Homo sapiens: one gene and its partners. The protein of the gene in region 1 interacts with the protein of each later gene in a biochemical or structural test. Each region holds a gene or a part of one and is shown in the gene's direction. Other genes may lie near its edges.

The links.
Region 2: the proteins of FLII (region 1) and LRRFIP1 form a complex in vitro, tested with the Homo sapiens proteins (one study listed by IntAct).
Region 3: of the proteins of FLII (region 1) and RNF34, one has a biochemical effect on the other in vitro, tested with the Homo sapiens proteins (one study listed by BioGRID).

Annotation. Positions count from the first base shown.
Region 1 is NC_000017.11:18,246,392-18,248,836, reverse strand, and holds part of FLII (protein flightless-1 homolog), read left to right. Parts: coding exon 1-37; intron 38-115; coding exon 116-287; intron 288-803; coding exon 804-908; intron 909-988; coding exon 989-1,180; intron 1,181-1,479; coding exon 1,480-1,668; intron 1,669-1,784; coding exon 1,785-1,924; intron 1,925-2,008; coding exon 2,009-2,243; intron 2,244-2,374; coding exon 2,375-2,445. UniProt on the Homo sapiens protein: Is a regulator of actin polymerization, required for proper myofibril organization and regulation of the length of sarcomeric thin filaments. It also plays a role in the assembly of cardiomyocyte cell adhesion complexes.
Region 2 is NC_000002.12:237,752,996-237,756,728, forward strand, and holds part of LRRFIP1 (leucine-rich repeat flightless-interacting protein 1), read left to right. Parts: intron 1-313; coding exon 314-484; intron 485-3,099; coding exon 3,100-3,192; intron 3,193-3,733.
Region 3 is NC_000012.12:121,413,618-121,417,117, forward strand, and holds part of RNF34 (E3 ubiquitin-protein ligase RNF34), read left to right. Parts: intron 1-2,541; coding exon 2,542-2,760; intron 2,761-3,500. UniProt on the Homo sapiens protein: E3 ubiquitin-protein ligase that regulates several biological processes through the ubiquitin-mediated proteasomal degradation of various target proteins.

The DNA of each region.
Region 1 (2,445 bases):
GGGCCCAGGCCACACTGAGCAGCACCACCAAGGCCAGGTACAAGGACACCGTGGGGTCTTTTGTGTGAAGGAAAGGGGTGTGAGCCTCGCTGATGACTTTGCATCCTGCTCTCAGGCTCTTTGCAGAGAAAATTAACAAGAATGAGCGGAAAGGGAAGGCTGAGATCACACTGCTGGTGCAGGGCCAGGAGCTCCCAGAGTTCTGGGAGGCACTGGGTGGGGAGCCCTCTGAGATCAAGAAGCACGTGCCTGAAGACTTCTGGCCGCCGCAGCCCAAGCTGTACAAGGTGAGCCCTGCTGCTGAGGCCCACCTTGGCCTCCCAAGTTCACCCACCGACTGGGGGAATGGACTACACACCGATGTAGTTGGCTTTGGGCTCCATCTCGACTTTGGTGGGGAGAGGGTGCCACCTTCTGGACAAGGAACAGTATGAGCAAAGGTCTGGAGGCTGCTTTTGAGAAGTAGCCTCACGGAGTCTTTCCAGGATGGTGGGGCCGTAGGGGAGACAGAAGCACCTAGTGCCAGGGCTGGGAACCTTGGCTCAATTATCTAGATTCTTGTGAACAGGAAAGGGACACGTTAATTAGAAATGGCATGAAGGGCCTGGAGAGGGCAGGCAGGGAAAACTCCATTTAAAAGCCCTTCTGAAAGGATATCCCTAAAAAGACCTTGAAGGGGAGGGGGAAACAGAAGCAGTCAGTGAGCCACGCTGCAGGGCAGGGCTGGTTCCAGAGCAGAGGGCTGTGTGGGTGAGGTTCCTGTCTCCAGATCCCTTCCCTGCCATGCTCATCCTTCCTGCCAGGTGGGCCTGGGCTTGGGCTACCTGGAGCTGCCACAGATCAACTACAAGCTCTCCGTGGAACATAAGCAGCGTCCCAAGGTGGAGCTGATGCCAAGAATGCGGCTGGTAAGAGATGCAGGAGGAGGGCGTGGGGCCAGATCCCTCCCCGTTGGCTGGGCTTTGACCTCCAGACTCCCGGTCCGCAGCTGCAGAGTCTGCTGGACACGCGCTGCGTGTACATTCTGGACTGTTGGTCCGACGTGTTCATCTGGCTCGGCCGCAAGTCCCCGCGCCTGGTGCGCGCTGCCGCCCTCAAGCTGGGTCAGGAGCTGTGCGGGATGCTGCACCGGCCACGCCATGCCACGGTCAGCCGCAGCCTCGAGGGCACCGAGGCGCAGGTGCGCTTGCAGCTTCGGAGGCCCCTCCCCAGGATCCTTCGCACCCTGACATGCCCTGACCCCTGTGGCTTCACTACCTCCCTACAGAGCTGGGCCCAAACCCACCTCCTCTTTGCTGACTCTGCCCAGGCCCCGCCCCCTCTGCAAGCTGCCCCTCCTATTCCTACCTCCGTGTCCGAGGCCCCGCCTCCCAAGCCCCGCCCTAGATCTCCCTTGGGTCCCGCCTCAAGCCTCGGGCTACTTCCTCCAACTCTAATCATGCCGCACCCCTCATGGTTAGTTGATGGCCTCCCTGGCAGGTGTTCAAGGCCAAGTTCAAGAATTGGGACGATGTGTTGACGGTGGACTACACACGCAATGCGGAGGCCGTGCTGCAGAGCCCGGGTCTCTCCGGGAAGGTGAAACGCGACGCCGAGAAGAAAGACCAGATGAAGGCTGACCTCACTGCGCTTTTCCTGCCGCGGCAGCCGCCCATGTCGCTGGCCGAGGTGGGGGCAGGGCCGGGACCGGGGCGCGGGGGGGGGGGTGGGGGGCAGGCCGAGGGCGGGGCCTATGCGCAGAGCGCGCTCAGACCTGCCGCGGGGCGGGTCCCTCTCACCTGCAGGCGGAGCAGCTGATGGAGGAGTGGAACGAAGACCTAGACGGCATGGAGGGTTTCGTGCTGGAGGGCAAGAAGTTTGCGCGGCTGCCGGAAGAGGAGTTTGGCCACTTCTACACGCAGGACTGCTACGTCTTCCTCTGCAGGTACCACCTCAGCACTCCCTTCCCCAAGTCCCTCCCCTGGTGCTGGGGGCTCGAGCCCCTGCTCACAACCTTCCAACCCGGCAGGTACTGGGTGCCTGTGGAGTACGAGGAGGAGGAAAAGAAGGAAGACAAGGAGGAGAAGGCCGAGGGCAAAGAAGGCGAGGAAGCAACCGCTGAGGCAGAGGAGAAGCAGCCAGAGGAGGACTTCCAGTGCATCGTGTACTTCTGGCAGGGCCGTGAAGCCTCCAATATGGGCTGGCTCACCTTCACCTTCAGCCTGCAAAAGAAGTTCGAGAGCCTCTTCCCTGGGAAGCTGGAGGTGTGCCTGGCAGCCCCGCGAGCCCGAGGCCAGGCGGAGGGGTGTGGTGGGGCTCAGACCCAGCGAAGGTTAGGCTCCCGAGGGGCAGGTGGGGGTCCAGGGAGCTGCCCCTAACACTTCCACATCCCCAGGTGGTACGCATGACGCAGCAGCAGGAGAACCCCAAGTTCCTGTCCCATTTCAAGAGGAAGTTCATCATCCA
Region 2 (3,733 bases), on another chromosome or scaffold:
CCAGCTACTGAGTGGGGCCAGAGACTCTACTGCCTCTGTGACCACATCCCTTTCCATACTGGTATCTCGTTTGTTCTAATGAGTGTGTCCATTGCTTTTAATAGTGAATTTTCTGAGCAATGAGAATTTGACCAAATTGAAAAGGGGGATTTCCATGCATTTGAAATTGCCATGTGTTTCTTCTTCTGATCCATTTGCTCTAAGAAATATAGTCTAAGTTTAGGACTGAGGGTTTTTTTTTAACAGAATACTGAATGATTCTTTGTTTTGATTTTTTTATTGCAATTTCAAAAATATGACCTGCTTTCCACAGGACTCTCTAGCAGAAGTTGAAGAGAAATATAAGAAGGCTATGGTTTCCAATGCTCAGCTAGACAATGAAAAGACAAACTTCATGTACCAGGTTGATACCCTAAAAGATATGTTGCTGGAGCTTGAAGAACAGCTGGCTGAATCTAGGCGGCAGTACGAAGAGAAAAACAAAGTAAGCATTAGTATGATACAGAATGTTAACAATAGGCTGCGTGCAGTGGCCCATGCCTGTAATTCTGGTACTTTGGGAGGCCAAGGTGGGAGGATTACTTGAGCCCAAGAGTTCGAGACCAGCCTGGGCAACATGGCGAGACATCATTTCTAAAAAGAATTAAAACAATTAGCCAGGTGGTACATGGCTGTAGTCCCAGCTACTTGGGAAGCTGAGGTGGGAGGATCACTTGAGCCTGGAAGGTTGAGGCTGCAGTGAGCTGTGTTGACACCACTGCACTCCAGCTTGGGCAACAGAGAAGACACTGTCTCAAAAAAAAAAAAAAAAAAAGGGAATGGTAGGGTGTGTGTGTGTGTGTGTGTATGTATGTATGTATGTGTGGATATATCGTGTGTATGTATGTATATATAATGTATAATTTACATTATGTATTTTTATATTTTTAAACAATGGCTCTCCGCTTATCCAGGAAATCCAAACATCTGAGAATAAAAGTACCATACTCTTTGCCAAGTGACTTGAAATATTGATACGTATAATTTCAACATGTAAACTGGAGACAGTTTTTCTAGGAGAACATCTAAGCTAAAAGCAAAACCATGAAAAAACATACCTATGAAAGAGCCACCATGCTCAGATAAGGTGCGATCAGATGCTTCAAGATTTTCCTATTCATATGTATTTTCTGATTTTTATTTTGTTCTCTCTCAACACCATAGGGAAATAGTTATGAGTATCAAAGATTTTAAGAAAATTATATTATTTTCTGCTGATTGGGAAAAGACACAGTTACTCTACTTAAGAATTAAATATATCACCAAGCTCAGAGAGAGAGATAGTCTTATCTGAGCTTTCATTAGGAACCACTGGAACTAGTTTGTTAATAGCTGAGATCAGATATAATTTCTATTGAGAGTCTCAAGCATGAGTCATGTGTTAAGATAAGTAATGACAGCGGACTGATTCCACGAAGGCTGGGCTTGGATGTTCTTTAGATAGAAAGCAAGGAATACTTTTTTCATACTTTTAGGAATTGTCCAATTTTTCAGAGATTCTGAGAAAAACAGAAAATGTAATGTGTGAGTGTCGTTGTTGTTGTTGTTTTTAACTGGCTATTATCCTCTAAATCCAAAGGGTTAAAACCAAGGTACCCTTGACAACCTTCAGGCCTGCTTCTTCGACTGCTATAGAATTGAGTTGGAAGCTGAAGAACATTTTACGCACAAAGTTCCTTATAGCTGAACTCTGCAAGAGGGGAGCTTTTCACAAGACTGATGTCATGTGGGAACGGAGGAGTGGAGAGCACAGCCCAGCCCCCCTTCGGGTGGGGGCCTGTAATGCATATGCATTCCTCCTGGAATGCTGTCATTAGGCATCATTCAGTGGACTGAAAACTCCCGAGTCTCACTCCAGAGAAGCTGGATGGTGCTAGAATGCTGTCCCGAGATGGACACAGGGGCCATGCAAAGCCCCACAGGAGGGCCCTTGTCATAGCCAGGAGGGCACCAGCCACCCCCAAGCTAAAGGAAGTGGGCGAACAGAAGTGCCAGGGTGAGCAGAAGCTCAGGCCAGATCCCATCTCAGATCACCCGCCTGACAGGTCTAGGGAAGGAGCGTCCTGCAGGCCTGTAAGCTGTCAGCAAAGTGAGTTGGGTCTCAGGCCGTCACCAGGGATTGCGCTGCTGTGACTGGGCAGGAACACAGCAGAGCCGAGCTGCCAGCTTCCTGGGCTGAGCCTCAGGTGGGGAGGCCAGGCCTGAGGAGCAGCTAGGTTTTGCAGGCTCTCCATTTGCTCCCCCAAACTCTCCTGTTTTTGTCTCTTAAGGGGCAGCCCTGAAGCACAGAGCTGGCCACCAGCTGTTCATGAGAGATGCTTTAGTAGGCCATGTTTATCTCCTTTTTATCCCAAAGAGTTTTCCTTGTCATATTTCAGCAGGGGCCATTTTATGGTAAGTCCTTGCAGGGCAGCCTCACCCAGGCTCTCAGCACAGTGCTGTGGAAGACACCAGGCTCCCTGGGGGGGCCCTTCGTCGGCTCTTGCTTCACTGTAGATAAGAAATCAGAAAATCCTTGTTGATTGCATCAACTCCTCAGGTTAATTTGACAGTAAGTCATCAGGCATCATCTATAAAGTCCAGAGGAATCTGTTTGTGTTGTTTGAAAGGGCTTGAAGGCCAGGTGCAGTGGCTCATGCCTGTAATCCCAACACTTTGGGAGGCTGGGGCAGGTGGATCGCTTGAGGTCAAGAGTTTGAGACCAGTTTGGCCAACATGGTGAAACCCGATCTCTACCAAAAATAGAAAAATTAGCCGGGCATGGAGGCAGGCGCCTGTATTCCCAGCTACTTGGGAGGCTGAGGCAGCAGAATCGCTTGAACCCAGGAGGCAGAGGTTGCAGTGAGCTGAGATCGCACCACTGTACTCCAGCCTGGACAACAGAGCAAGACTCCATCTCAAAAAAATATATAAATAAAAAATAAAATAAAAGACCTTGAAGATTGTGATGATGTAGTAGCAGGTGATTTGTTCCACAGAAACTATAAATCGTGAGAGCCTGAACTGGCATGCCAGAAACATGGGATTCCACTGCTTTAGTGCTGTTTTTCTCCTTTACAGGAATTTGAAAGGGAAAAACACGCCCACAGTATACTGCAATTTCAGTTTGCTGAAGTCAAGGAGGCCCTGAAGCAAAGAGAGGAAATGCTCGAGGTAGGTAGCATTCTCCTGCTTTTCTTTTCCTTTTTTCCCTTTGGAGCATTTTGTCAGGCCATGACTATCTTAGCTTAGGCTGCAGTAATAAAATACCATACACAGCATGGCTTAAACAACAGAAATTAATTTTCTTACAATTCTGGAGGCTGGGAGTCCAAGATCAAGGTTGGGTTCAGGTGAGGCCTCTCTTCCTGGCCTGCAGACAGCCACCTTCTTGCTATATCCTTCCTCCAACGGTGGAGAAAAAGCAATGTCTCTGATGTCTCTTCATATAAGGACACTAATCCTATTTGATCAGGACCCCACTCTTATGACCTCATTTAACCTTAATTACTTCGTAAAAACCCTATCTCCAAATACAGTCACATTGGGCATTAGGGCTTCAACAGATGAATTTAGAGGGACACAATTCATTCCATGGCAATTACTAAAGTTTTCAGTTTTCTTAAATCTGAGAGTTTAGGCTAACTCTCCATCCCTAGATTTACGAAACAGTCCCTCTCATTGGTGAACATTCCTATTCTTTGGTGATCTTGTA
Region 3 (3,500 bases), on another chromosome or scaffold:
CCCAGGCTGGAGTGCAGTGGTGCTATCTGGGCTCACTGCAAGCTCCGCCTCCCGGGTTCACGCCATTCTCCTGCCTCAGCCTCCCGAGTAGCTGGGACTACAGGCCCCACCAGCATGCCCAGCTAATTTTTTGTATTTTTAGTAGAGACAGGTTTCACCGTGTTGGCCAGGCTAGTCTTGAACTCCTGATCTCGTGATCCACCCGCCTCAGCCTCCCAAAGTGCTGGCATTACAGGTGTGAGCCACCGCGCCCGGCTTCACCTGACTTTTAAAGGCATCACTATTTCTTGAGAATTATAGGGTGTGAAGACTTATAATATTGAAATCCTTGGCTTTGATACTTCAGACTGTTTGAACCTTGTGTTGTGGTTTCTTCTTTACCTTCTCCTTTCTTTATAATACAACATTACTTCTGGGTAATAGCAGAAACAGCCATTATCCTTCTGTTGCATTCCAAAGTGCCTTTTGCATTTTAAGGTTGAGGGCTTTTTATTTGCTTTTTGTTTTAAGAGCTTGCTGGACAAACAGTCCAGCATTTTACATGCTATTATAAAATGTTTGACAGAATCAGATAATAAAATAAATGGAACTGTATTATTATATGCTGCCATTTTAACTAATACCTCAGCTATCTCGACTTCCATTACCTATCACATTATCTAGATTCTAGAATATGCTTAAGAATTAGGACAAAGGCAAAAGCCTATTCGTTCTAAACACTATAGCTTTTATTTTAAGCATGGGAAAATGCCTTTGGCCCTCGCTGAAAATTTATTCTTTTATGTATACTTGGGACAAGCATGGTTATCAGGTTTCTGAGACTGCAGTAAAAAGGAGACAGGTTACTCTGGGCAGGTATAGTGATAGCCCTGGTGGCTCAAAGAGAGGGAAGAGACAAGGAAAAAACCATAGAAAGCAATACATTAGTTCTGGGCCATTTAGTGGAGTAGCAAATAGCCCTTACGCCTTGGAAGGTCATGATGGTTATCAACTCATTAAAAATTATGTTTAGTATCTTCAGTTTGAAAAGGTAAAATAAAAAAATACTTTCCTGTTGTTGTTGTTGTTTTTTCGAGATGGACTCTCGCTCTGTCGCCCAGCCTGGAGTGCAGTGGCTTGATCTCGGATCACAACAATCTCCGCCTCCCGAATTCAAGCAATTCTCGTGCCTTTGGCCCTCGCTGAAAGCTGGGAGGCTGGGCACGGTGGCTCATGCCTGTAATCCCAGCACTTCGGGAGGCCGAGGTGGGTGGATCACCTGAGGTCAGGAGTTCGAGACCAGCCATGGTCAACATGGTGAAACCCTGTGTCTACCAAAACTACAAAAAATTAGCTGGGCATGGTGGCGGATGCCTGTAATCCCAGCTGCTGGGGAGGCTGAGGCAGGAGAATCGCTTGAGCCCGGGAGGCGGACGTTGCAGTGAGCCGAGATCACGCCATTACACTCCAGCCTGGGCAACAAGAGTGAAGTTCCATCTCAAGAAAAAAAAGAATTTGGAAAGTAGAGAAAATTTCAGAGAAAATAAATTACACATAATACATTAAAATCTATTCTGGTTTGTCTACAACTTCAGGTACAAAAAAATCTAGAGAGAGTTTCAGTTGGTGTTTTGATGTTTTCCAAGTCATTTAAAAAATTATTTACATATGCTATAGTATATTATACCCAATTACAAATGCGAAAACAGAGGTTTAAGGAAATGAAGTAATTTAAATTTATGGGCCTGGCATAGTGGCTCACACTTGTAATCTGAGCACTTCAGGAGGCCAAGGTAGGCAGATCACTTGAGGCCACGCATCTGAGACCAGCCTGGACAACATGGTGAAACCCAATCTCTACTAAAAATAAATTAGCCAAGTGTGTGGCGTGTGCCTGTAATCCTAGTTACTCGGGAGGCTGAGGCAGGAGAATCGCTTGAACCCAGGAGGTGGAGGTTGCAGTGAGCCGAGATTGCGCCACTGTACTCCAGCCTGGTTGACAATGAGACCCTGTTTTTAAATAAATAAATTTATTTTAAATAAATAAATAAATTGATGTTATTTCTGTTAAATAATAGCTGAGAAAATCTGCCTTAGACTGTAGAACTGTGGTGCAATGGCCACCAGCCTAATGTTGCCAGGTAAAATACAGGGTGCCTGAAAATTTGAATTTCAGATGAAAAACAAAGAATTTTTAGTATATGCATATCCCAAATATACCACAGGACAGACTTTTGTCCAGTCTTTTTTTTTTTTTTTTTTTTTACATGCCTGTGTACATGTATCTGTTTTGGGTGGGTAGGGAGGTTTTTTGTTCTGTAAAATTTGGATCATGTTCTCTTTTTGTTAAACAAGAGATCATGGGTATTGGCAATGCCAGATATTCTTTGGAAATAGCAGAAAATTCTTTCCAAATGGCTTGAAATTTCAGTGCCCAGAGGAATATAGTAATCTCAAAGTTATTGAGGGCAAACTTACCTCTCCAGAATAGCATTCCCTGAGGATCCCAGAGAGCCCAGATTCCACTTAGCTTTAAACTGTGGGATTTGTGTTCCTTTTTAGGCGGGTGCCACGTCTATGTGGGCTTCGTGCTGTGGGCTGCTGAATGAAGTCATGGGAACTGGAGCTGTCAGGGGCCAGCAGTCAGCATTTGCAGGAGCCACCGGTCCATTCAGATTTACACCAAACCCTGAGTTTTCCACCTACCCACCAGCAGCTACGGAAGGGCCCAACATAGTTTGTAAAGCCTGTGGGCTTTCATTTTCAGTCTTTAGAAAGAAGGTGAGTTGGATGAAATGTTACATAACAACACACATGGGTCAGCATTCTTGATTGTAGGTTATTTTGAATAGCTATTGAATTTTCATTTCTGTTTATAAAAATATCAAAAGCTTAGTTCCATTAGCCATTTTCCATCTAGAAAAATACTTAATTGGAGGGATTATATTACTGCTCAAGTTTTATAGACATTGTTTCTCATGTTCAGGCATCCTTTCTCCTGAACTTTGACCTGTTTGTATCATTTTATTTTCTATTATGTTTATTTCCAAAAGCAAGAAATTTGTTAGTCTGTAGTTTTGTTCACAAATGATTTACTGTAACTATGATTCAGATTCAAGTTTCAAAAAAGTATCCCGTACCTTAACTTTCAAATGAATAAATGAATGCAATAAATTAACTACTCTTTAGAGATTCAACATCAAATACTTAGCTAACAGTTATTTTCACTAAGATGGAAAGTCATTCAGAGACCCATCATATTGGTAGGCCTCCTTGCTCTCTTTGATCTTTAGTTTAGTCTTCTGAAATACTTAAGGAAAAAAAATGTTAGCTTGCAGGAACAATGCAGCGAGCAGAAACGACCACATCTTAGTGCCCTCTTTAAGCTTCTCTAGTGGCAAGGCTTTGATTGTGATTAGGCTGTGTAGTTTACAGATTACTGTATTAGTGGGTCCTGTATTTTCTTGGATTCACCTTGAGAGATCAGTTGCCTTTCTCTTTCCCTGTCAGTCTGTTATGCT